4 separate regions of the Homo sapiens genome follow, and regions 1, 3 and 4 are each reported to be linked to region 2. The links are microRNA targets in miRTarBase. Many come from high-throughput screens and were not tested one by one. Region 2 holds a microRNA gene; each other region holds the end of a gene's coding sequence.

Region 1 (5,606 bases), not on the chromosome of region 2:
ATTCTATCTATCTATGTATCTATCATCTATCTATCATCTATCTATCATCTGTCTATCTATCTATCTATCTATCATCTATCTATCTATCATCTATCATCTATCTATCTATCTCCAACTATCTCCTATTGGTTTTGTTTCTCTGGAGAACCCTAATATAGGAGTCCTGAAGGTAAACTTAGCCAAGCAACAAACATAAATTGAGACTGCAATATACCTCTTTAAAACCCAGTTAAGGCATGGCAAAGTTGAAGGCATTGGCCCCGAATGCAAATTGTGTCTTTCGCTAAGTTAAGAGTATTAATATCCATCACACAAGCTTGCTGGGGGCTCAAATTAGATGACATATAAAACATTGGGCAAATTGCTAAAAAAACTTTGTTATTAATTATAACTTTTATCTGAAGCAACTCATAAATGGTGATGACCTTAGCAGAAATATCCTAAGTGACTTTGTAATAATTTTAAAGTGGGAGACCATTACCCCCCACAAACACATACAAACACATACACACACTATGCACATGCTCATTACATACAAATACATAGACATACACAGACTCTGACACATAAACACCTGTTTTGGGAAAAAATAATAAAGCTGACTGTTTAACCGTTAAACATTTTTATTGTGCAGGCTTGTAACCTTTACAGGACATGCATGATAAAAAATTGTAAAATATATCAGTAAGCATATAAAATTTCAGCAATCTTTTGGACCAGTAATTGATTTGCATGAGGGACTAAGCATCTATGTAGAACAGACATGTCTTGGAATACACAGTTTACAGATTGAATCACAAAGCCATTTCCTAAGTGATTTTCTTCATATAAAGATAAAAATATCTTTACATTTAAAAAGTATGCAGTATAGCACATTTTCAGTTATGTACACAGTTTAAAAGTAAAACTATATCCATGCCAGTGTCTGTTTTAAATGCAAAAAGTCAAAGTAGGTAACAGGTTGGTAATTAAAGTGTCAGGAAGACTGGAAGAGGCAAAAATCAAGCAGAGTTCCAATAAGTGTATGAAAAAAAAATCATAACTGAAGGTTTAAGAAAAGTCCCCAAAGGCAGAATCACAATATGAGCAGGAGGAATAAAAAGCTTTTGGATATACCAGGCAGCTTTCTGTACGACTCAGGTTTACAGGTGAAATTCCTCAGTTTGAGTTCAGAAGAATTTGAACTTATTCCAGCAAAATACTTCAATCTTTTTATTACTGCCTCCTCCCCCATCTTCTTTCTGGGCAAAGGGATGCTTGGATTAGGTCCAAAGCTCCTGGCAGGGGGAGGGGCCATGTGTCACAGCATAACAGACGGTTGCAAGTGCTTTACTGAGCAGGGGTCAGGTTTGCAGCAACTCTGATAGGCTCACACAATGGCCTCCATTTTACAGCCCCTCCTTGGAGGCCCACTGATCAGCTGAAATGGGAACACAATGTTGAGCCACTAAACCACCCCGGTGATGGATTAGTTTGGATTCAGGAAAGCGTGATTATTCTTGAAAATAAACGAAGCTGAATAGACATGCTGACCTCATTCAGTTGATGAGAGGCAGGGAAAGCTGGCTTCCAGGACTGCCAGCCCACAGAGAGCTCAGCCCTATTGGTCCACTTTAATTCATTTCATTGGGCTAGTGTCAACCATACCCACTACGGATAAAGATGTTGCCAGATGAAGCCCAGAAGTGAGCTTCACCAGACTCTGTAGCTCAGAGTCAGAAACACGCATGGAAAACTAGGTCATGGATATTCTAATTTTGGTCTTCAGGGAGGCTGCTGACCTAAAGCGAGTTGCTGAGTTAGACCCTATTTGAAAAGGAAAATGTGAAAAACAGGAAGGCACTGAGGTCTTGTTATCTACATAACAAATATTCAGGCACAGAAAATATCATAGGTTAAAATTTCAAGAAGAGTAAGGCATTAGTTGGATCATGAGAAGGCAGAAGATTATGTTTTCTAACTTGTAAGGATCACTGGATCCTACTGGATTATGAAGTGAATGGCAGTAATCCACTAACTCCTTAAACAGTGGGAAAAGAGTTTGCTGAAAATCTGCCCACATACTTGTACACTCCATGGCCATACCCTGGAATTCTTCCCTTAACATAAAATGACCAACATTTTGGAGTAGGCAGTTGAGGTTGTTGGTTCTTTTCTTTTTTTTTTTTTTCCTCCTCAGTTCTTCATATTTCTCTCAAATTACCTTTCAACAATATGTTCATATCTCAGCCAATAAAGCGATGGTTGATCCACATGCAAATAAAAAGGTAAGGAAAAAAATTTAAATGGGTTTTAAAAATTCAGACTGCCAAAAATAGATGAAATAGCTCAGAAGAGACATAATACTTATGAAAACTGAGAAAGTGATCTTTTTATTTTCAACCAAGATAATTCAATTCATAAATTGTTGCTGTATTAGCAACTTGGAACTTGAAATTGGCACCAGGAAAATTAAAAGGAAAAAAAATCAGGTATACTTCTATCCTTGAAATGTCATTTATATTTCTTTCTGCAAGTTGATGCGGACATTGCTGAATATTTTCCCAACAGCTTCAAAGAGTGGGTCACAGACGGTGTGGACGTAGATGGAATAGACACGGCTGATGCACTGAATCTCAATCAGGAAGCTCTTAATGCATGGTACAACTGCCCAGATGTGCAGGAAAGAGAGAATGGCGAAGTAAATGCCCCAGATGAGTGCCATCGGGATGCCAAAGAGGGCAGACAGCAAGCGGTAAAACCAGTATTTCGTCACAGTGAAGGTGGTGAAGCTGGCCTTCCAAATGCCGTCAAAACTGTGTGTCCCTTCTGGTTCTGCAATCACATCTTCAAAGTCAATCTAAAAGGAAGAAGTGACACAACATGAGCACAGAATAGAAGAAAAGAGAAAAAAAACCCACTATTCAGTATCCATAGACATATACTGTATTAGCATTTATGAGTTCGTTCTTTGTGAGATGCTTAAAGGCAACCAGCAGCATCAGCATCACTTGGAACTTGGGAACACAGATTTTTTTCATTTTTATTTTTTTGAGACAGGGTCTTGCTCTGTCACCCAGGCTGGAGTGCAGTGGCATGATCATGGCTCACTGCAGCTTCGACTTCCCAGGCTCAAGCAATCTGTCTGCCTCAGCCTCTTAAGTAGCTGGGACCACAGGTTCATGCCACCACACTTGGCTAATCCTTTTTTTTTTTTTTTTTAAGAGATGGAGTCTCACGATATTGCCCAGGCTGGTCTTGAACGCCTGAGATCAAGGAATCCACCCACCTTGGCCTTCTGAGGAGTTGGTATAATAGGATGAGCCAATAAGCTGACCTGAAACACAGATATTTGGGTTCCCCTTGGACCTTATTATCTCTCAAGGGTGGAACCCAGGATATTTTTAAACATGTTCTCTAGGTGTTTCTCTACCACACAAAAGGTTGAGAACTACAGCTCTAGAGAAAACCAAATGGATGTGATTAAATTTCTTGACTTAAAGTAAAACCCCCAAACATGGATAAGGATACGAGGCACTCAGTACAATGTAAGGAACATGACATAATTTAACTGCCTTTGAAGACAACTACACATGCAATGTTAAGGGGCAGTTAGTTGATAATCGGTTAACAATTCTTCAAATGCCCAATTAGCATAATTACTTCAGGAAATTAGATCATGGTGTGCTGGGAGGCATCAAGAAGGCTTCATGAGGTGGGAGATTTGAGCAGGGCTTGGGCAATTGGCTGATTTGGAGAGGAAGAACAATGGGACGTTGGAAATGTGTCAAAGCCCCAGGAACAAGCAAGGGTGTCATAGTAAGTGTCTCAGGCAGAATAGACCTGTGTCACCGAGGCTGGAAAGACAGGTTGAGGCCAGACTGAATATTATTTTACAGACAGTGGGGTCTATGGAAGATGTGGGAGCAGGGGAGTGTAGCCACAATCGATGCAGTAGTTTATCAAGATGAGTTTGACAACCGTATGCACACTGGGAGAAGGAGGAAAGAGACTCAAGGCAGGGAGACTGTTGCTGTCACTCAAGTTTGAAGGGCCAGGACTGGAAAGGTGGTCATAAAAAAAAGAAAAGAAAAGAAGGTTCCAGAGATGCTAAGGGAAGAATCCACAGGACTTGGTTAGCTCAAGGGTGGGGATGAAAGGAGCTGGAATGCAAATTTGGCCCCTTTCCCAATAGCTCTCCCAGGTACATGTTCACCCAAACAATTAATTACAGGAAGTTTTATCCCTCTGTAAAGATTTATATAAACTACACTGAAGCACAGGATTAAAAACAGAATTACCAACAGAAAGGTAGGACAGAGCCAGTGCAACTGCTTGGCAGTGACAGCTATAGGAGGGGATTTAATGCAGTTTGAAATCCCAACAAGTGGATGACTGACAGCAGCGACTCAGGCAGGCTCAGGATTAGGGAATGAGGACTGCCATGACTCCACGGAGCTACTCAGTGCCAAAGAGCCACCTTTGATTCAACAAAATAAAATGTCTTCTGGAAAAAGCACATGATGCTTACCAATTTTTAAAGTTTATTTTGTAGAACATTCTGTTTCTTGACTTATTGTCCAATGTTCTAATAATGTAATGTGAAAAAAACGGCATGGCCACAATTATGTAAGTGAGCTTAAGTAGATGTATTGTCACTCATTTTTCTTCACCCATTTGGATCTAGACACAGGGTAAACATTTAGTTGTGTGTTTTAAAAGGTGGCAAATACATGGCAAATCAGGTCAATACTTTTATGAAGTTTCTGTGCAAATTATTTGTCTATTATGGGTTTGTGTTCTGACACTGCATTCTTCCCAAAACTATCAAAAATAAGGGGCTCTGGTTTTCCTGCATTCAACTGCAAGACACCTAAAGAATTTTATTTTTTAAAGATGTCTTTGTTTTGTAAGAGGATTTGAAGGCAGAATTAAAATACTACAGCAGGTGTTCTTAATCTGGGGTCAAAAGATGGGCAATGGTCATCCATGACTGCCCTGAAATGGACACACATTTTGAGTGTATAATGGGAAATGATCCATCACCTTTATTAAAAAATAGTCTATTACCAAAGAAGGTTAGGAAGCAATTTACCGGGAGCAGAGGATTCCTACCTCTTTACAGAGCAGACCCGAAGCAGGTCTGCCTTGAGATTCTTTTCCTAGGAGGGGAAGAGTTGTGAACATTTGTTGACTAGTTGTGATCAGACACTGTTCTCATTTAACTGACAACAACTCTATAATATAGTATTCTCACTTTATAGAAAAAATGTGAGGTTCAGAAATGCTAATGAGTTGTCCAGGTAAAAGAGAGGTAGATTTGAGGCTTAAATCTGGTCTGAAAGTTATCAACTTTCTTCAATATTGTACCACTTTACAAAAATGGTTTTCAAATTTTATCTAAGGTGAGTATGCTATTTCATAATTAAAAGGCACGTTAATAAAAAAGAGTTTGCCAAATTTAACCCTCTGGTAACTGCAACAATTCTCCCGGCATGTTCTTTGAGGACAGTGTTACACCATATACACAATTGGTCCTTAGTGAAGATATTTAAAAACATGAGTGTGTAAGATTTCTTAATAATAATTCTATTTTTCTAAGCATAAATTCAAATTATTTTTCAATG
Region 2 (5,998 bases):
CCAAAACATTCCCTCTTCATCTCTAGTATTTTTGCTTCTAGGCTCATCTTTTCCATATAGCCTTCTCTGTGTCCTAACCTTTGATAATTTTCCTTTTCCTTTTTCCTAAATGTTGGCAATAATGAAGTTTGTATTAGTCATCAGGATTCCTGAAGCACTTTTTCATATAACCATCTTGATATTAAATAATTATATATAATATAAATAGAATATATAACACAAACATGAATTCTTAATCTATTACTATAAGTTATATTAAGATATATTCATATTACATACTAATATAATTAACATATTAATTATCTATATATACACACATTGTCCATCTCACCAACTAGACCACATAAATCCTTAGAGATTGTTCTCTAAAGATGGAAAATATGCAACCTGTTTGCTCCTACTGAAGCCATACCTAAGAGCTCCGGCAACTTTAATTATAGAGACTATTTTGTTAGACTGCTTATGATTTACCTGAAAGATAAATTAACATTTTATACTGAAAGCAACAGTATTGATTAATCAATAAATATAAACAAGAAGCTAATTAAGAATCTGGTGCACTCTTACTAATGAGAGTACAATGAAATGAAACTAGAAATATGGAATTATAAAAACCGCTGGCAGTTCATTTTAGCTCAAAAGAAAATCTTCTCCCATAAATAGATTCAATTATTTTTAGTTCTTCAAAGGCACTGAATTGACTTCAATTTAGTCTTGCTTCAACATATAAACTAGTTTCTAGGTATACTATCAAGAAGTTTAATAATCTGACATTTATTGATCTATAAACCAAGATATGGTTTTATATTTCCTATGAGTAAATATGCATTTAAAAAAACAGGTTTAGGCCAGGTGCAGTGGCTCACTCCTGTAATGCTAGCACTGTGAGAGGCCAAGGGGGGTGCGGTGGATCGCCTGAGGTCAGGAGTTCGAGACCAGCCTGGCCAACATAGTGAAACCCCATCTCTACTAAAAATACAAAAAATTAGCCAGGCATGGTGGTGGGCGCCTGTAATCCCAGCTACTCAGGAGTATGAGGCAAAAGAATCGCTTGAACCTAGGAGACAGAGGTTGCAGTGAGCCAAGATCACGTCACTGCACTCCAGCTTGGGCAATAAGAGCAAAACTCCATCTCAAAAAAAAACAAAAACAAAAACAAAAACAAAAACAAAACAGGTTTATAAAGAAGCTGCTAAAATCCAGTAATTTCTAATTAGTCTAATTCTTCATTTCTTCCTCTTCCAACAACATCCTTCAAAAGCTGTGGGAGATGGTGAGTTTGTATGTATTGAAGGGAGGGATATGTTGTCTCCAATTGTCTCCATCTTTTTTTTTCTTTTTTCTTTTTTCTTTTTTTTTTTTTTTTTTGAGATGGAGTCTTGCTCTGTCACCCAGGCTGGAGTGCAGTGGCACGATCTCGGCTCACTGCAACCTCTGCCTCCCGGGTTCAAGCTATTCTCCCACCTCAGCCTTCCAAGTAGCTGGAACTACAGGCGCGCACCACCACGCCCAGCTGATTTTTGTATTTTTAGTAGAGACAGGGTTTCACCATGTTGGCCAGGATGGTCTCTATCTCTTGACCTCGTGATCCGCCCGCCTTGACCTCCCAAAGTGCTGGGATTACAGGTGTGAGCCACAACCCCCGGCCTGTCTCCACCTTTTCTAATTCCCAATTCCCATCAATCTAGTCTTGTATCTAGAAGTGGTAAATTAAGTCAATATAAATGTGCCAAAGCTAAAGCAGAAGGTATTTGTTTTCTACACTCTTCTTGGCTTCCTCCTAGTCATCAACCTTGTCTCTCCTGATAGCTCCTTTTCCATCTCCCTAATCACCAAAAGCCCAGAAATTAAAACAGTAAACAATTCCCCTGAAAGGTGCCTTCCTTGTACTGTCTAAAACAAATGCAATCCTCTGTGTGGGCATTTAAAACACCACAAGCATTCTTACTTAGATTAAATCATGGGTCTCCCTGGTCTCCAGGCATGCCTAGACATGAACCATAAAGGGAATGAGATCCTTGGAGTTTCTCTAGTAACTGCAGGCCAAATCAACAGCAACCCTAAGAACAAGCATTCTTTTTTTTTTTTCAACAGAACTAGGCCACACATATTTTTTGTCGTTATTTAAATTTTTAGTTGTACTACATAGAAAATAAACTCATTTTAAAAAGTTATTTCAGTAGGCAATGCATCTTCATGACTTTTACATATGAGTTTTATTTTTTATTACTTTTGAAGAAAAGTCTGTAGAAACCTACTTTTCAAGGCATCTGACCCAACCATTGCCTTGGATGGCAGCAATCCAGCTCAGGTAAGATATTTAAGATGCAACTAATAATCATAAAACATCAGTTGGGAAGAAGTGTTCGATATAGTATTGGGTAAAAGTGACTAACAATTTGGTAGAAGAGAATCATTTTTATAACTATCTCCTAACCAAGATTTCTCTAAGTCTGCATATTGTTAATGGAATGAAGACTATTTTGCTCCTAGTTTCATGTATGTATATTTAGGTGAATGTGAGTCATTTATGTAATGTGTGCTAAAACACCGTGCCCCTCACAAAGATAAGATGAATACAAAATACAGTTATTGTAGATGGCTTGTCTTTCACAATTTAATTCTACGAGTTAATTTTTACAATTAACATTTTCTGTGCTACATATTTTGTATTTTGGTTTCTTTCCCTTCACTATGGGGTGTACAGAACAAAGTATGCATTTGGAAAAAAAGTGCTGTCTTTCATATGCAAAGAAAATGCTATAACTTATTCAAACATCCTTGGGCAGTTCTTTAGTTGTTTTAATAGTGTGAGTTTGTAGTTTGTATTGAATGATCCAGATGACCTGCCCCTGTTCATGTTACTTGTGGCATCTATGAGACCATTTGCTGGTTTTAGGGAATCAATCTATAGGTGGGAAGTTTTCTTTTGCAGAAACTAATTTAGAACTAAGCCTTTGGTGTCAGCAATGGGTGCTCTATACTGGATGCATGAAGACCATATTTCTAGGGGAGGCTGCTTCCAGCTGAATTTCACAAGGTGAGGATAAAGAGAACATTCCTTATCCTCTCCTGATTAATTCATTAAAGGCAAAGGAGGGGAAGGAAAGTTATTAGCAGAGATCTCCCAGAAGTCCTCTGTAACTGTCCCTTTTGCCCAACTGTCACAAGATACTGTTTTTCTGGCATCCACAGCCCTAACCCTGAATATCCAAATGTACTCGTGCATCAAGGATCTACTCAAGTCTCACCTCCTCTGGGAACCTTCTTTGACCTATTACAGCTCTCATTGAGGACCTCCCTTCTATTTCTGATACAAATAGTTTCTACTATTCTAAATAGTCCCTAGTTTAGTAATTTATTATATATATACTGTCTTGAATGGTATGGCCTTGATCTCAAGAGGACCACGATTTGATGTAACTAACAAGCTGCCTGGCTCACTATTTGACTAGAAGGCCCAGGCTTCACATCACTGCATGGCCCTCTAAGAGTATAAGGCCAAGTCCCCAACAGAGCACAGAGGTGCAGATGAGACTCTCCAAGCCATCCTCCCATATGTCAGAGGCTACCCAAGCCCACCTCCATTTGGAAAATTCAAACCTATAATTTGAGGTACCTGGGAAGCCGCTTTCCCAGGGCGGAATGGTCACGGAAACTGGGTAGGCTGGGGGCCTTCTTGGGGAATGAGGGAGTGGAGGAGCTCTTTGTCCCTCCTGCTAGATCAGAAAGAGAAACGTCTCAAGAATCTGGGCCTCCATCTTCTAGGCGTCTCCCTTGGAGGCCCTTCAGGGACCGCCCACAGCGCTTTCTCTCAGCCTCCTCCCCCCCCCCATCCCCTCCCCCACCCGCCCCGTCTCGCGCCCGCCCCGCCCCTCGGCCCGCGGGGTTCCAAGGACGGTTGGTCGCCCCCGCCACAGTCACTCGGCCGCTCAGAGCGGCGGGGCGCACGGGGTCGAGAGAGCCAGCTCTAGGGTTTGGGGCTGGGAACTGAAGCCTGGCGTGAAGGAAGTGGGAGCCCGGGCCGAGGAGGCGAAGGGGAAAGGAAAAGCGAGGGGAACCTGAGCGGGAGGGCCCTGAGAGGAGCGGGAGGCTGCGGGAAGGGGAGGCCTGGCACTCCTGGGGGTCATGGGGGTCGGGGCGCGGCTCCCGGCCTGGGAGGGCGCGGGTCCTCCCCGGCAGCGCCGCCCGCTGGCCCAGCTACGCGTGTTGTGCGCTGCGAGGCCGGCGGGGGTCCCGCTGGGCCCGGGGGTGTCCTCGGGGGCCGCTTGCGCCCAGCCATGGTAGGGCGTCCCCCGGTGAAATGGGGTCCGAGGCGGGCCCCGACCCCGCGTCGGCGCTGCGGACCGTCCGGGAGCTGCAGCCGCGGGTGCCCGGTGCTCGGTTTGTAGGCAGTGTCATTAGCTGATTGTACTGTGGTGGTTACAATCACTAACTCCACTGCCATCAAAACAAGGCACAGCATCACCGCCGCCCGGCCGGGAAGAAGACGCCGGCTCGGGCAGCCCGCAGCCTTCGAGAGAAGATGCCTGAGAAGCGCGGCGTCGGCGTGGGTCCTGCGCAGCCTGCCCCGCGAGCGCCCGCTGCAAGTGCGAGGAAACCCGCGGTTTCTCCAGATACAGTTAAACTGTTAGCTCTCTCTAGGAGTCACAGAAGATGAAACAGTCTCATGCCAGGAAAGCAAAATCCCTGGAGGTGAAGCCCCTCCATCCATGTAACGGTTAATACTGTATGCTGTGATTCACTGTGTCTATTTGCCATCGTCTAGTAGAGTATTCACCAAGCTAGCAACTCAGTTGAGCTCCAACTCAACCAATGAATTGCCTGCCTGTCACAACGTGTTGGGGTACCAACTTGAGACTGCAATTTTTTCTATGAGTCTAGTTACTAGGCAGTGTAGTTAGCTGATTGCTAATAGTACCAATCACTAACCACACGGCCAGGTAAAAAGATTTGGGAATTCGTCCAAATGAGCTGCCTGTGCATCATCAATGTGCGTGGGGAAGAGGGGTGTTGGAAAATGCTGATTTCATCCATTGCCTATTAATTGCTCAGCCAAAAGAAAAAAATCAACATTTCAGCTACTAAGTTTACAATGTATGTAATGTGTATGTATGTGGGGTTTTGTTTTGTTTTTTTTTCAATATTCCTTCAGGCTCTTAACCAAAATTTTAGATATAAGGGGGAATATGATTTTTTTCTTAGCTGACTGATGTATGTTATTATATGAACATGTGATTATTAACTTCTTGAGACTATATTGTTAGTAATATTTTGAAAGTAATATTGTTAGTAATATTTCGAAAGAATAAAGTGCCATAAAGACATAAATTGTGGTTATTGCTATGTGTCCATTTCCTTTGCTAAATTGACTTTATGATGTCCATCTCAGTTCCTGCCACAGTAATCTTAACTTTTCTATCAATGAAGTGGTTAAGTTGTTCCTGCCATGACAAAAATCTCCCGGGAAAGCTACTCATACACACAGACTTGTTAATACTTTTATAAGAAATACATTAACAAAATTTTTCATACTTCTTTTTTCCATGAAGAGACTCTGTTCACTCATTAAGATGTATCCCTTCTTTTAAGTAATCATTTACAACTGTTGGAGTCTATGCAACTTTTAGTGGGAGTGATTAGTAAATGCACTTACACTTTAAATCCAGCTTGTTTCCTAAGATTTAAAGGATTCAGAATTTTAAAATCACAGAAACTGTACACATGGGCACGTATCCGCCCAGTTCAGGCCTCTAGCTCCCAAGGGCTAGGCTTTCAGGCGTGAATTCTCCAGCGCAACGTTCTCAGAACTTCCACCTAGCAGGTGCTGTCCCTGGCAATCTGGTTTGGAAGTGGGGATTGGGGCAATGGGGCTGAGGAATTTAAAGTTTATTTAGCTATCTTTCTGGGGGGAGGGGAGAGGATGTGGCAGCCCACTGAGGATATAAGAAGCTAAACTACTCCCCCACTGACTCCGACAGGACACAACCCAAAGTTG
Region 3 (5,572 bases), not on the chromosome of region 2:
CTGCAAAGAGGCCTGTTAGCTCCCCTCAGGCTGTGCAGGAGATGGCAAAATCCTGACAGGTGTCCTCCTGAGGGAGATACCAGAGAGGTGGGCCAGTGTTATGAGTTGTCTGGCTGGGCCCTGGTGCCCAGGTTGGAGGTGGTAGCCAGGGAAGCTCCGGCTCTCAAACTGGAATCTACTGTCTCAAACATTTTCTTAGCTGGGCACTCATTGGGGATCGGAGTGGAAAGGCAGTAGGGAAGAAGAATTTGGGGGTCTCCAAGCCCCTGAGGCAGGGGAAGGTGGAGGGGACAAAGAGGGGACAGGATGGCCTCTTTTCACGTGCCCATGGGGGCTCAGCCGCAGCCCTCTCTGCTCTTCCTCCAGCGGACAGAGCTCCAGCCAGGTGAGGGAAAATGTAGCCAGATCACTGGGCTGCCTGCCTTCTCACAGTCTCCCCAGGAAAGAACCAAATTTGTCTGAAAGAACAGAGGGCTCCCAGTTGGGGCCTCAGCAAAGGAAAAGCAAACAAAAACCAAACCAAAGCAAAGCAACTCTTATAAACTGAAGTTTTATTACAAGCAGGAACAAAGAATACTGGCTTAAATAAAAGGTAGGTGGGAGCCCCCTCCTCTAGCCAGCTTCTTCCTCACCTCCCAGGGCCACTGCAGTGATGGCCCAGGGCCCTGAGGCTGGGGTGAAGCTGTTTCTCCCAGAGGGGACCCTCTGTGGCTGCCATTCCCAGCTGTCTGTGACCACTAGCCTCTGGAGTGAGAAGGGCAAGATCTGGGGACTTCCTATGTCACTTTCCAAGGGCTTCAGCCCACTTGAAGGGCCAAGGAGGGGGATGGTGGAACAATATCTATTTTGATAAGAAACTACAGCTCCCAGCAGAGGAGAAACATCCTCTGAGTTTCCGGCCCAGACTCAGGCCAACCTTCACTTGCCTCTTGGCCCACCCTGCACCTTCTTCCTTTTCTCTGGATGGAGGTCCCCGTTTGGCAGAAACACCTTGTCTTCCAGCTCCTGGCACTGGGTCCCATATTCAGAGCTCAGAGGAGGGGGTGTGGCTTGTAGGATGGCAGCCGCTCCCCAGAGCCATCACCCCACCCACCACGCCCAGGCTCAGCCTGTCTGGGCAGGTCCCAGCTGGAAGCCTCACCTGGGGGCTGGTGGGTAGGGCTGGGGGTAGAGTGGCAGAGTCCCCAGACACTGGCTGTCTGAAGTCCATAGAAGAAGGAAAGATAGGAGGCTGGGCTGAGCCCCAGTGGGAGCCCAGGGTTTTCTCGTGACCAGTGCACGTGCCCCCTGTCCCCTTGGCTCAGAGTGCTTCTGACACTCAAAGGGGATGGGGCAGGGGGCAGCCCAGGGGATATGGGAGCCAGCCACATTCATACAGGGCACACATGAACACACACACACATGCACACACACTCTCACTCATTCCAGCCAGAAGGTCTCTTGGAATAAACTTATTAAAACCAACCAGCCTTCTGATAACCCTTCACCTGGCACTACACAGACAGTAATGTGGCTGACATTTTCTCCTTCCATTTAAAAAAGACTATGTAGAAAAGAGGTCTATAAAATTGTGCAAAATACCCAGCATTAATAAACCCGTTTCAAGTATTGCCAGCATGAGCATAACCCACCCATGCCGGGACCTGGCTTGGGAGAGAAGTGGAGGGGCAGGCTGGGATCCCTTAAAGAGCTCTCCATGGGCAGGGGAAGGACCAGGCTCCCACTTCCACTGTGCTGCCCAGGAACTGCACAGGAGCTGAGGCTGTGGGTGCCTGGCTGGCTGATTTACCTTTGTCTGATACAGGCTGCCCCCACCCACCACCAACCCTGCCTTCTCTACTGGAGCCCCAACTCAATCCTATTGGCCAACTCCATAAAAAAGGGGGGAAAACCCCACCAAAAATCCCACAGAATAAAGGGAAATTATCACCAAGGGAATGAAGGAGCCCACAGACCAAAGCAGCCCATGGAGGCTTCCTCTCCACAGCCAGCTATCCAGAGCTGGCCACTCCTCAGTCCTGCTTCACCCTGAGGACCCTGGCTCAGCAAGGCCCAAGCAGTTCCCCCACCTGGGAGGCCTCACGCTCAGTTCACAGCCTCACTCACACAGGGCTCGCCCGGCACAGGCAAGGACTTGGTGTGGTCCCCTGGGTAGCCTCCAGAGGCTCTGGTCTCTCCTGGCACTGATCAGCTGGGGTACCTAGGGCCCAAGGCTGTGGGAACCTGGGTTTGGGGAGCAGAGGGCACAGCCACGGAACAGTTCAGGGAAAGCCACGCAGGATGGGAAATAAATATGAAAAGACTTGAGTCTTTGGCAGTTCTGCTTCCCTTGGATGGAATAGGGAGGGTCCCGGCAGGTGAGTGCGGAGGGTCAGACAGGCCAGCAGGTGGCAAGTACTGAGCCGTGGTCAGGGGTGGCCTCCTACCATGCTGGCATCAGGCTTGGCTCTGCAGGCTGGCTCATCGCTTCTGATGGGTGAGGGCAACACGGTGTCGGACTGCACAAATCCCCTCCGGTCAATTAGGCTTCCAAAACACAAGGGAGACACATGAGGGCTCTGCCCAACACTGAGGCTCTAGGCCAGGGGTTGGACGGCAGAGTCTATCTCAGCCAAGGAAAGGCCCAGGCTGAGAAAGGCTGAGGAAAGGAGAGCTGCTGCCCATCTGGGGGCCCAAGACTCTTACCTCTGGCAGGCCTCTCTCTGCCCTCTGGCCACCTGGCTTTTGGCCACAGAATTTATTCACTATTAATTCCAACTGGCCCACCTGTCTGGCTGCCAAGAAGCCAGGCTGCAGGTGAGGGAGGAAAGCAAGGATGAATAGGTATTTGATGACTATGAAATTCCTATGTTCCCTTCCCCTCTAGGCAGGCTGGGTGACAGGGATACTGGGTGGGGTAGGTGACATGACTGTGTGGGAATGACTTGTCTTAGCAGTACCCACAGCAATGTAATCCCCGTTCTGGAACTCTGGTGCCCCCTGGTGTCAGGATGAACAGGGAGTGACCCAGCAGGGCTGAGTCCCCAGGGTTCCTACTGCCAGGAGAGGATGGAGTCGCCACCCAGTCCAGGCAGTGGGCAACCGGAAGGGCAGTGTCATTCAAACATGGCTGAAACAGTCATGGTGGCTACCCCCGGGGAGTAGAATTACATGTCATATCCAATGCTCCTCTGTTTTACGTTTTGTACTTAATTTTTTTTTTCTACAATGAGCACGTGATTAAATAACAATTCTCCATGGAATTCCGTCACATGACAAATGCCCTCCAGGGGGTAGTGGACGGAGGGCATCTAGGGTGTAGGGGGAGGTCGGCTGATATCCAGGAACACTTTGATCACTGGCCAGGCATGGCCCTGTTACCCCTCTTCCGCACCCCGCTCACTTACCTGGGAGGTAGGGGGCCACAGAGCACAGCACAGCAGTTGGTGATAATACTTTTATGGCTGTAGGGGTTGACAGAGGCCTCACCGCCCCTCTTGCTGGACCACGAGCCTTTGATCTGCAAGCAGGAAGGAGGCCTAGGTCAAGTACCTCCTTTTGCTTCACTTTTCTAGGAGGCAGGTCTAGAGGCTGGGGACAACTGGACAATTCCGAAACCAATTCTGGTTACAGAAGGCGACATGTCTTTCATGTGGGCCATTCAATGAGAATGTGGGGGACCCCTGGCAGAGATCAGGAGGCCCCAAAGAGGAGATGACAGAGCAGAGCCCAAGAGAAGCATCCAGAGGAAACGTTTCGGATGACTCCTCCCTTCTCCGGCCAGCCACTTCTGAAGGAGGGTAGCGCAGGGGCACAGGGTGAGGGCTGACCTGCCTGTGAGCCCCGGCCCTGCTACTCACTGGCTACGTTACCTGGACAGATCACCACTTCGCTGAGCCTGAGTCCTCATTTGGAAAACAGGGAAAATAATACTAATTCTCAGATGACATTGCTAGGGCATTAGATTAATTCTTGCCAGATTCTCTAGCTCTGTGAAGTCAGCTATGGAAGGCACTGGAGAGTTTAGCAATAAAGAATACCTTGACTTTAACCTAGAGTTTTCTACACTTATTTGGCCACACACTCCTTTCTCTTTAACCTCTGGTAATGTGCTGCAGAACTGGCACCCAAGAAGCTACTGCGGGAGATACTGGCTGATGGCATTTCTGTTCTCACTGATCACCAGGCACACAACGCCCTGTCATGTGTGAAGTTTTGTTTCCCTGAATGAGAGGATGAGGTCTGGGAATGTATTTTCTGTTGGAGGATGGGTTGCTGGTAAGTATCAGATGGTGGGCCCTGAAACAGATGCTCTCATTTACTTTTTAGTGTTTGGAGGATGGGGAGGAGAAGTCAGGTCTGGCCTAGGACTGGGCACATCAAACATGCTTGTTGATGGCAGTCTGCAGGGTGGCAGGCAGGGAAGGTCAATGGAGCCCACTGGCCTGTGCCCTGTCTCCCCCAGGCGTGCATATTGAGAGGGGCAGCCAGGACAGGCCAGTGCCACCTTGAGAATAGTCACGGCTTTGCTGCTGACAGGGGCAGTGTGGAAGAGGGAGCGCATACCTGTGACTGGGCACCAACCTTGGCTCTGTCCCCTCCCAGCTGTGTGACCTCTCAGACATGGGACATGTCTCTCAGTCATCGAATGGGGAAAAAACATCCCTGTCCTTTCTGCCTCAGGCTTGGCAAAAGGACCCAAAGAAATGACGGGAACTGAAAGAATTCTGTAAGCGGTCATGTGCCAGCCAAACATCATGCGTGCTGTGGTGTGAGTACTGCCTCCTGCAGGGCTGTGGAGAAAAGCAACCTGGGACCTTGGGAGCCTGCACTGAGAGAATGAAGCATGTGGAGGTGTCAGAAGCCTGCATCGGACCCACCAGGGCCAAGCTGAGATGACTGGGAGGCATCTGGCTGCTTAAAAGGCATTATCCCAGCAGTCCGTGAGTCAGGACTGTGCTTGGCTGCCCCAGGCTCCCTCAGCCCTGCCTCCTCCTGAGGGCGCTGCCCTAGAATGAGGGGTGGCTCCAGGTTTACTCACGTCTTCATTAGTAGTCAGGTTGGAGGCGACGAGGTACGTGTGAAACCCTGAGAGGCCCAGAATGGACCAGATGGAGAAGAAGCAGATCACCAACTCCAGCACGGTGAGGGCAGTTAAGGACTTCAATGGGTGGAGGGTGGGGAGCCTCCCAGCCACACCTGGCCTGTCTCACCTATCCTTCCATGGAGCTGTTTCCCCAGAGAGCTGAGAAGTTTTGGAACCTTCCTGTGGCCCAGTCCCCACTTCTTAGCAGGATCACCTCCTGGGCCCCTCGGAAGGGTCAGGACCCCACTCAAGAGCCAGACAAGGTCAGGGTGATGGACGGCAGAGAAAACTGAGGGTTCCAATCACAAAGAGCCTTGGGCACGACACGGTCCAGGGAGCTTGGCATCTTAAGGGACATACTCTTTTCCAGGCCCCTGAAGACGAGGAACCCCCGGCCCCACAATGCCCCATTTAGGATCAGCTCTTGCCTGGGTGTGAACAGAAGAGCTGGCATGTTGGATTCTGGAGGACACATGTGAGCTGTACGCTGTTCCCTTCTGATTAGAG
Region 4 (5,998 bases), not on the chromosome of region 2:
TGACAGGGTTGACCCCAGCTTCGCCAAGTCCAGTCCCTGTCTGATCCATTCCACCCATTCATTCATTCACCCACCATACAAGCACCCATCTGCTCATCCACCCATTCCTTCACCCATCTGGCTATCCGTCTATCTTCTCACCCACTCATCACCTGTCTACCCATCCACCCACCCACCCACCCACCCGTCTATCCATCCATCTATTCATCCACCTACCCATGTAAGCACCCATCCACCCATCTACTCATCCATCCACCCCTCCACCCATTTAGCTATCCATCCACTCAACCACTCACCCACCCACCCATCCACCCATGCATCTACTCACTCATCCATGCTCCCATCCCTCCACCCATCTAGCTCTCATCCATCTGCTCACCCACCCACCATCCATCTACCTATGCCACCAACAATTATGGAGAAGTCTGCTAGGTGTCAGCCTCTGTTCTAGTTACCAGGATGCAATGAAGTACAAGGGAAGCCAGGTCTCAGTCCTCCCTTAAGTAGCTCATTCTGTTGAGGGCCAGCAATACTAATGACATAATCAGGCAAAGAAACAGACAATTACAAGTTGTAAATAGGGTTTAACCAAGGTTGTGAATGATAGGAGGTGCCGACTTTAGAGACAAGAAAGCCTTTTGGGGGTGGACATCTTAGCGGAGACCTAAGGGGTGGGAAGAGGCGGTCATCTCAGGGCCTGGGAAGAACATTGCAGGGGAACAGCCGGTGCGGAGGCCTGAAGCAGGCTGGGGCATGGCTGCTCTTGGGACCATCAGGTGGAGGGCATGGGTGAGGGAGAGTGAAGTGCAGCCCCCTCGTGGGCCGGGCGTTGGCTGTCGGGCCCTGTGGCACTGGCCGGGAGTGCAGGGAGCTGGTGAGTAGGGGTGTGGGTGACAGGCTGGGCTGACAGGATGCTCTCTTTGCCAGCAAAGGCCACCTGAGCGCTATCCTGGCCATCAAGGGGAACCTATCCAACAGTGAGGTCAAGCGCATCCGGAGCATCTTGGACGTCAGCATGGGGGCGCAGGAGCCCTCCCGGCCCCTATTTTCCCTTATAAAGGTTGGTTAGCTTTTCCTGTGGCCTGACCTGCCTGTGAGTGCCCAGCAAGCCTTGGGCACACCCCGCTGGGAGCTGTTAAGAGCAGCGCTGGTTCTCGGTTCCTCCCGGGTCTCCTGTGCTCTGATGCTACTTCTGCCTAGCCCTGGCGGAGGTGCAGGCCCTGTCAGCTGGAACTGGACAGACCTTGGTTTGTTTACATGTCCGATGGGGGCAGGAGCTCCCATCCTGGGCAGCCAACCAGGCAACACCAAGGACTCTTTGTAAACGATAGCTGATCGTGTGCACGCAAGGAAAGAACCAGGAGGGAGAGTGCAGCCAGGCTCAGGGATCCCCGGACACCTCTGTCCAGAGCCCCTCCACAGTCGGCCTCATGACTGTCCTCCTCGTGGGTGGGGCCGAGGGCCCTCTTCAGCTCTCTGGAGACAGGGGCCGAGCCTCACCCATCTGCCCTCTGCAGCCCAGGGCCGCCGTGAGCGGGATTCAGCAATGGTGGAATGGAAGACAGAACTGGAAGAGAAAGAAGGAAAAGATGAGCTCTCGTCTGGCAGGGGCTTTTAGGGTCCTGTGGCGAGCTGTGAGCACCGCCAGCATTAGACGTCACATCCAGGTGGCCCCACGGCCCCTACAGGCTGGCCCTGCAATGGGGCCCTGAGCCCTCCCTCTTCATCCCCCAAGGCCTCAACTAGAGGGTGGTCCCCCGAGGGCTTGGTGTCTACTACCGAAGGGCCCAAGACCTCCTGGGTCCTCTCAGGCTCCCCCTTCCCCAAGGCAGGGACAGGCCCTGGGGGTGCCACCGTGGGCCCTGCCACCCAGAAGTCTGGCTGAGGTCTGGGCAGGGGCAGGGCAAGCTTGACCTCTCACTGTTGACCCTTTGGCCTCTGTATTTGTTTCCTATTGCCGTGACAGGTTTCCACAAACTTCGTGGATCAAAACGAGGTCTTCCAGTTCTGCGGGTCAGAAGGCTGACCCGGGGCTCAAATCTGGGTGTCGGCAGTCCTGCACTCCTTCTGGAGGCTCTAGGGGAGAATTCATTTCTGGCCTTTTCATTTTTAGAGGCTGACCGTAATTCTTGACTTCAGGCTCCTCCATCTTCAGAGCCAGCTGTGGGTAGTTGAATCTTTTTCCCGTCACCTCATTGAGGCCTCCCCTCTCCTGCCTCCCTCCACCACTTTTTTTTTTTTTTTTTTGAGACAGGGTCTTGCTGTGTTGCCCAGGCTGGAGTGCAGTGGCCTGGTCATGGCATCAAGGCTCACTGCAGCCTGGACCTCCTGGTTCAAGTGATCCTCTTGTCTCAGTCCCCTGAGACAATCCCCCACGCCCAGCTACATATTTTTTGTGGATACAGGGTCTCATTCTGTTGCCTAGGCTTGTCTGGAACTCCTGGGCTCAAGGGATCTTGTAGCCTTAGCCTCCTAAAGTGCTGGGATTATAGGCATGAGTCACTGTACCCGGCCTGCTCTACCGCTTTTAAGGACGCTTATGATCACATTGCGCCTACCCAGAGAACCCAGGTCGTCTTTCTATTTTCAGGTCAGCTGATTAGCCACCTTAGTTCCATCTGCAACTTTAGTTCCCACTGGCTGTGTAACCTAACATAGTCACAGGCTCTGGGGACTGTCACGTGGACATCTTTGGGAGGCCGTTATTCTGCCCACCGCACCCTCCGTTCATCCCCTGCCCTGCCGGGCACCTCGCTCTACCCCAGGAAAATGTGAGCTCGTTTTCCTGCTCGGCATGTGCTCCCCCTAAGGCTCTGCTCCTCCCTGGGCCTGAAAGTTCCTTCTCAGCCTGAGAGGGGGCCCTTCGGACTCAGGCATGACTCAGCCCGGCTGATGCCTCTGCAGTGCTGAGTCAGGATTTGGGGCCGGCTCTCTTGGGTCCGTCCCCTTTTCCCAGGTACTGCCTTACAAAGCTGTGGCCAGGAAGTGGCCGGTATAAAGGATGCCCAAGGTCTTTGTACGTGTGTAGGAGTTAGCGTGTTTGATATTGTTAATATAATAATAATTATTTTTTAGAGTACTGCTTTTGTATGTATGTTGAACAGGATCCAGGTTTTTATAGCTTGATATAAAACAGAATTCAAAAGTGGCTGTGGAGTGATTTATTTTGGGAGCTGCACAATGATGGGGGGCCCAGCCAGGCAGCCTTAGCAGCTTTCTGAGCCTCTAGGGGTCCGGGCAAACCTACCTAGGTTCTGTGTCAATCCCCAGCCTGTCCCAGCCCCCAGAGCACCTCATGTGGTCCAGGCAGGAGATGGCCCACCATCCCCTCACTGTGAGCAGGAGCTTTGGAAGTGTCTGCCTGTAGGGCATGGACAGTCACTTCACCCTTCCGTGCCTCAGTTTCCTCATCTGTAAAAAGGGGACTGTGACCCTTTGGGGCTTCCTCCACCGTCCTTTACTGAGGAAGAGGGTGGGGTGGACACGGGGCAGCCATTTCAACCGCATGCACGGGACACAGAGTGGGAACTGACTCTTACCATGCTGGCATTGACCTGAAAGCTACAGCTGTGGACACAGGAGGTCTGGTTTGTATTCAGAGACGGGCTCAGCTGCCACGGAAGGGTGGGCCTCTCCGCAGCCAATCTGGCCTGGAATTTGGGAAGGAGCAGAGTCCCTGGAAGGGAAGAAGGGTACCTTGATGAACGTTGCACAGAGGCCGGGGAGGGCCCCAAGGGGAGCCGTGTGCACCTGAAGAGGGGTGTGGGCTTCAGCAGGGCCTGGGACAGCCCGGAGCTGGGGGTGGGGGAGGGCAGGCCCTTTCTCCTGAGTTCCATTCTTGGGGCCAAAGCGGATGGCATGAGGCCACCGTGCAGTGAGAGAAAGGAGGGAGACGAGGGCCAGGGGCAGTGCGGCTTGGCACGGAGACCCTCTGCCCGGCTCCTGGACCCGCCGGTCCATGTGGCTGCGAGGTCCTGGCCTGGTTGAGCCACGTGGGGAGCGTGGGCCTTGGGCGGGCGAGTTCCCGTTCCTCTCCTCGGAGCACAGGGTCAGGGGGAAGTGGGGGCAGCGCGACTCTCCCCTGCATGGCCCCCTGACCCTGGGCAAACGTGGGGAGAGATGGCGCCTGAGCCCCGATGGAAGCTGTCAGTGGGCCCTGGCACACATTCTCCCACGGGGGCGGACTTAGGTCCCAAAGTGACCCCCAGCCTCGCGGCGGCCAGGGCGGGCCGAGTCGTCGGAGCGCGGCGGGACCTGGGGCCAGGTGGACCCCCCTCCCCGGGCTGCGTCCACCCCTGGCAGAGGGGCGGGCTCCGGGCGCGAGGCCCCAGGCGAGGAGGAAGAGGGTGCGGGCGGCGCCTTGGAGGTTCCTGCTGTTCCTGCTTTTCGGGGCGGGGGCCTTCCGGGTCACTGTCCCGCCAGCTGTTGGATCTGCACCAGTAACTTCTCCAGGAAAATCCCCCGGAGAGGAGGATCTGCCCGGCGGAGGGGAGCGAGTCCCCCAGCGCGGGGACAGGGCGGGCGGAGCGGGGCCTGGGCCAGGCCTGGTGCCTTTGTGCAAGGACGGGCCCCGGGCTGCCCAGGCTCCTGTGAGCAGGGGTGGAGCGGGGAGGCCGCAGCCCCCGCGGAACACCGGGCGCCCCCGGCCTCCAGCAGTGGGAAGCAGCCCGGGGGCTGACGCTCCCTGCAGGAGCCAGGAGCAAGCAAACAAGCAGCTTGAGTGCAGGCGCGGGGACGGGCCGGGGGTGCCTGCGGGTGAAAGGGCGGCTCAAAGGGACAGTCGCTGGAGGCCCGGTCTTGAGGAGGTGCCTGGAGCAGACCCGGGCTGGGCGCTGCGGGGGAGGGAGGAGGTTGCGGAGGCCGGCGGGCGGGAACGGGGAGGAATTCCAGGTTTCAGGCAAAGAAAGACGGCAGGACTGGGGAAAAGGGATCCTGGACAGGAGACTCCGCAGGAGGAAGGAGGGGGCCGGTAAGTGGGCTCCTTCCAGCTGGGGAGCGGGGCTGGAAGGGGCTGGAGACGCGAGTTTCAACTCATGGGATTTATGGCTTGGAAAGACCCCTCTGCCCTTCGGGGGCGCTGGGGTCCCCAGGGGAGAGATGAGGGCGGCAGCGAGGGCCCCCTCGTGCAGTGAGATGGAGCGAGCTCTCGGTGGGCTGAGGGAAAGAGCAGCCCAGGGGCTTCTAAGAGACCGGGAGGGAACCAGGCTGCTTCCAGGGACAGGGAGGGCCTGGGAGGGGAGAAAGGGCTGAGGAAGCGCTTGGTCAAGTTCAGGGGGAGAGGTCCCTCCGCACTCGCAGTTGTGCCCTGTGTCACCACGATGTTGTTCCCAAAGTATTCTTCTGGTGTTTTTTTTATTTTTATTTTTTCCTTCTTTTCACAGGTGTTGACCCAAAGTATTTTCTCTCATGCCTGGCCACTCTGCCCTGGACCCTCAACCCAGCCGAATATGACACATCTCCAGAAACCCAGCAGGCGCAAGCCGCAGGGTTGGCCTTAAAATCCTGCTTAAACAGGAGACCCTGGAGGCCTGCTTCAGTGCCACCAGCCTAACCGCCAGGGCTCATCAAAGACGCTGCCCAGATGCATTGAACGTAAGCAAGATCAGCAAAGGTTTATCTCAACTTCAGACTCACTCCCAGAAACTCACTCTTGGGAGCTCTCTGTGGAATTGGGCCCCCCTTCTTCTGGTATTATGTTTTCAAAACTGACAGGGATATGAAAGAAAAACTTATCCAGGAAAGAAAATTGGGTTGAACATTTAACATCTCATTTAAGTCTTGCAATAATGGCTATATGTATTTTTGCTAAATAAATCTTCTATTAATCTTTTTTTTTTTTAAAGTTTGAGATGTCTGCAGAATGGGCATGTGGTTCATTAGAGTGACCAATACCCCGGTGAGTGACAACACTTTGTGTGCGAGGCTGCCGGCCGCCAGGCCCTCTCTCTCGCTCACTGCTTTGGGGGCATCATTTTGCACAGCCCCTGTGGAGGGTGAT

The links. The annotated mature microRNA hsa-miR-34b-5p reads UAGGCAGUGUCAUUAGCUGAUUG and lies in region 2 at 4,389-4,411, shown strand. An mRNA with a match to its seed (bases 2 to 7 or 8) in the 3' UTR can be bound and repressed. Matches are read on the target gene's strand: a 7mer-m8 pairs with bases 2 to 8, a 7mer-A1 pairs with bases 2 to 7 and ends in A, and an 8mer does both.
Region 1: miRTarBase lists CAV1 as a target of hsa-miR-34b-5p. Seed matches in the 3' UTR shown: 8mer at 2,129-2,136.
Region 3: the mRNA of ZDHHC18 is a reported target of hsa-miR-34b-5p. Seed matches in the 3' UTR shown: 7mer-m8 at 229-235.
Region 4: miRTarBase lists TNFAIP2 as a target of hsa-miR-34b-5p. Seed matches in the 3' UTR shown: 7mer-A1 at 1,193-1,199 and 7mer-m8 at 2,959-2,965.

What each region holds. Positions count from the first base shown.
Region 1 is chr7:116,556,179-116,561,784 of GRCh38, reverse strand. CAV1 (caveolin 1) reads right to left here. Exons shown (of 3, transcript NM_001753.5): 3 at 606-2,839. The coding sequence ends at 2,498. Among named protein-coding and RNA genes, the nearest start is that of CAV1, 34 kb to the right of the region's middle.
Region 2 is chr11:111,508,562-111,514,559 of GRCh38, forward strand. MIR34B (microRNA 34b) reads left to right here and starts at 4,377; the gene lies at 4,377-4,460. BTG4 (BTG anti-proliferation factor 4) reads right to left here and starts at 3,825. Exons shown (of 5, transcript NM_001367975.1): 1 at 3,620-3,825. MIR34BHG (MIR34B and MIR34C host gene) reads left to right here and starts at 2,041. Exons shown (of 2, transcript NR_147706.1): 1 at 2,041-2,311; 2 at 4,457-5,327. MIR34C (microRNA 34c) reads left to right here and starts at 4,878; the gene lies at 4,878-4,954. RefSeq lists an enhancer at 1,481-2,680.
Region 3 is chr1:26,850,680-26,856,251 of GRCh38, reverse strand. It overlaps ZDHHC18 (zDHHC palmitoyltransferase 18), which reads right to left. Exons shown (of 8, transcript NM_032283.3): 6 at 5,021-5,123; 7 at 3,387-3,499; 8 at 1-2,526. The coding sequence ends at 2,409. Among named protein-coding and RNA genes, the nearest start is that of SFN, 9.7 kb to the left of the region's middle. RefSeq lists silencers at 1,100-1,272, 2,845-2,904 and an enhancer at 2,519-3,020.
Region 4 is chr14:103,134,292-103,140,289 of GRCh38, forward strand. TNFAIP2 (TNF alpha induced protein 2) reads left to right here. Exons shown (of 12, transcript NM_006291.4): 12 at 928-3,148. The coding sequence ends at 1,069. It also overlaps the pseudogene NDUFB4P11. Among named protein-coding and RNA genes, the nearest start is that of TNFAIP2, 14 kb to the left of the region's middle. RefSeq lists an enhancer at 1,021-1,522.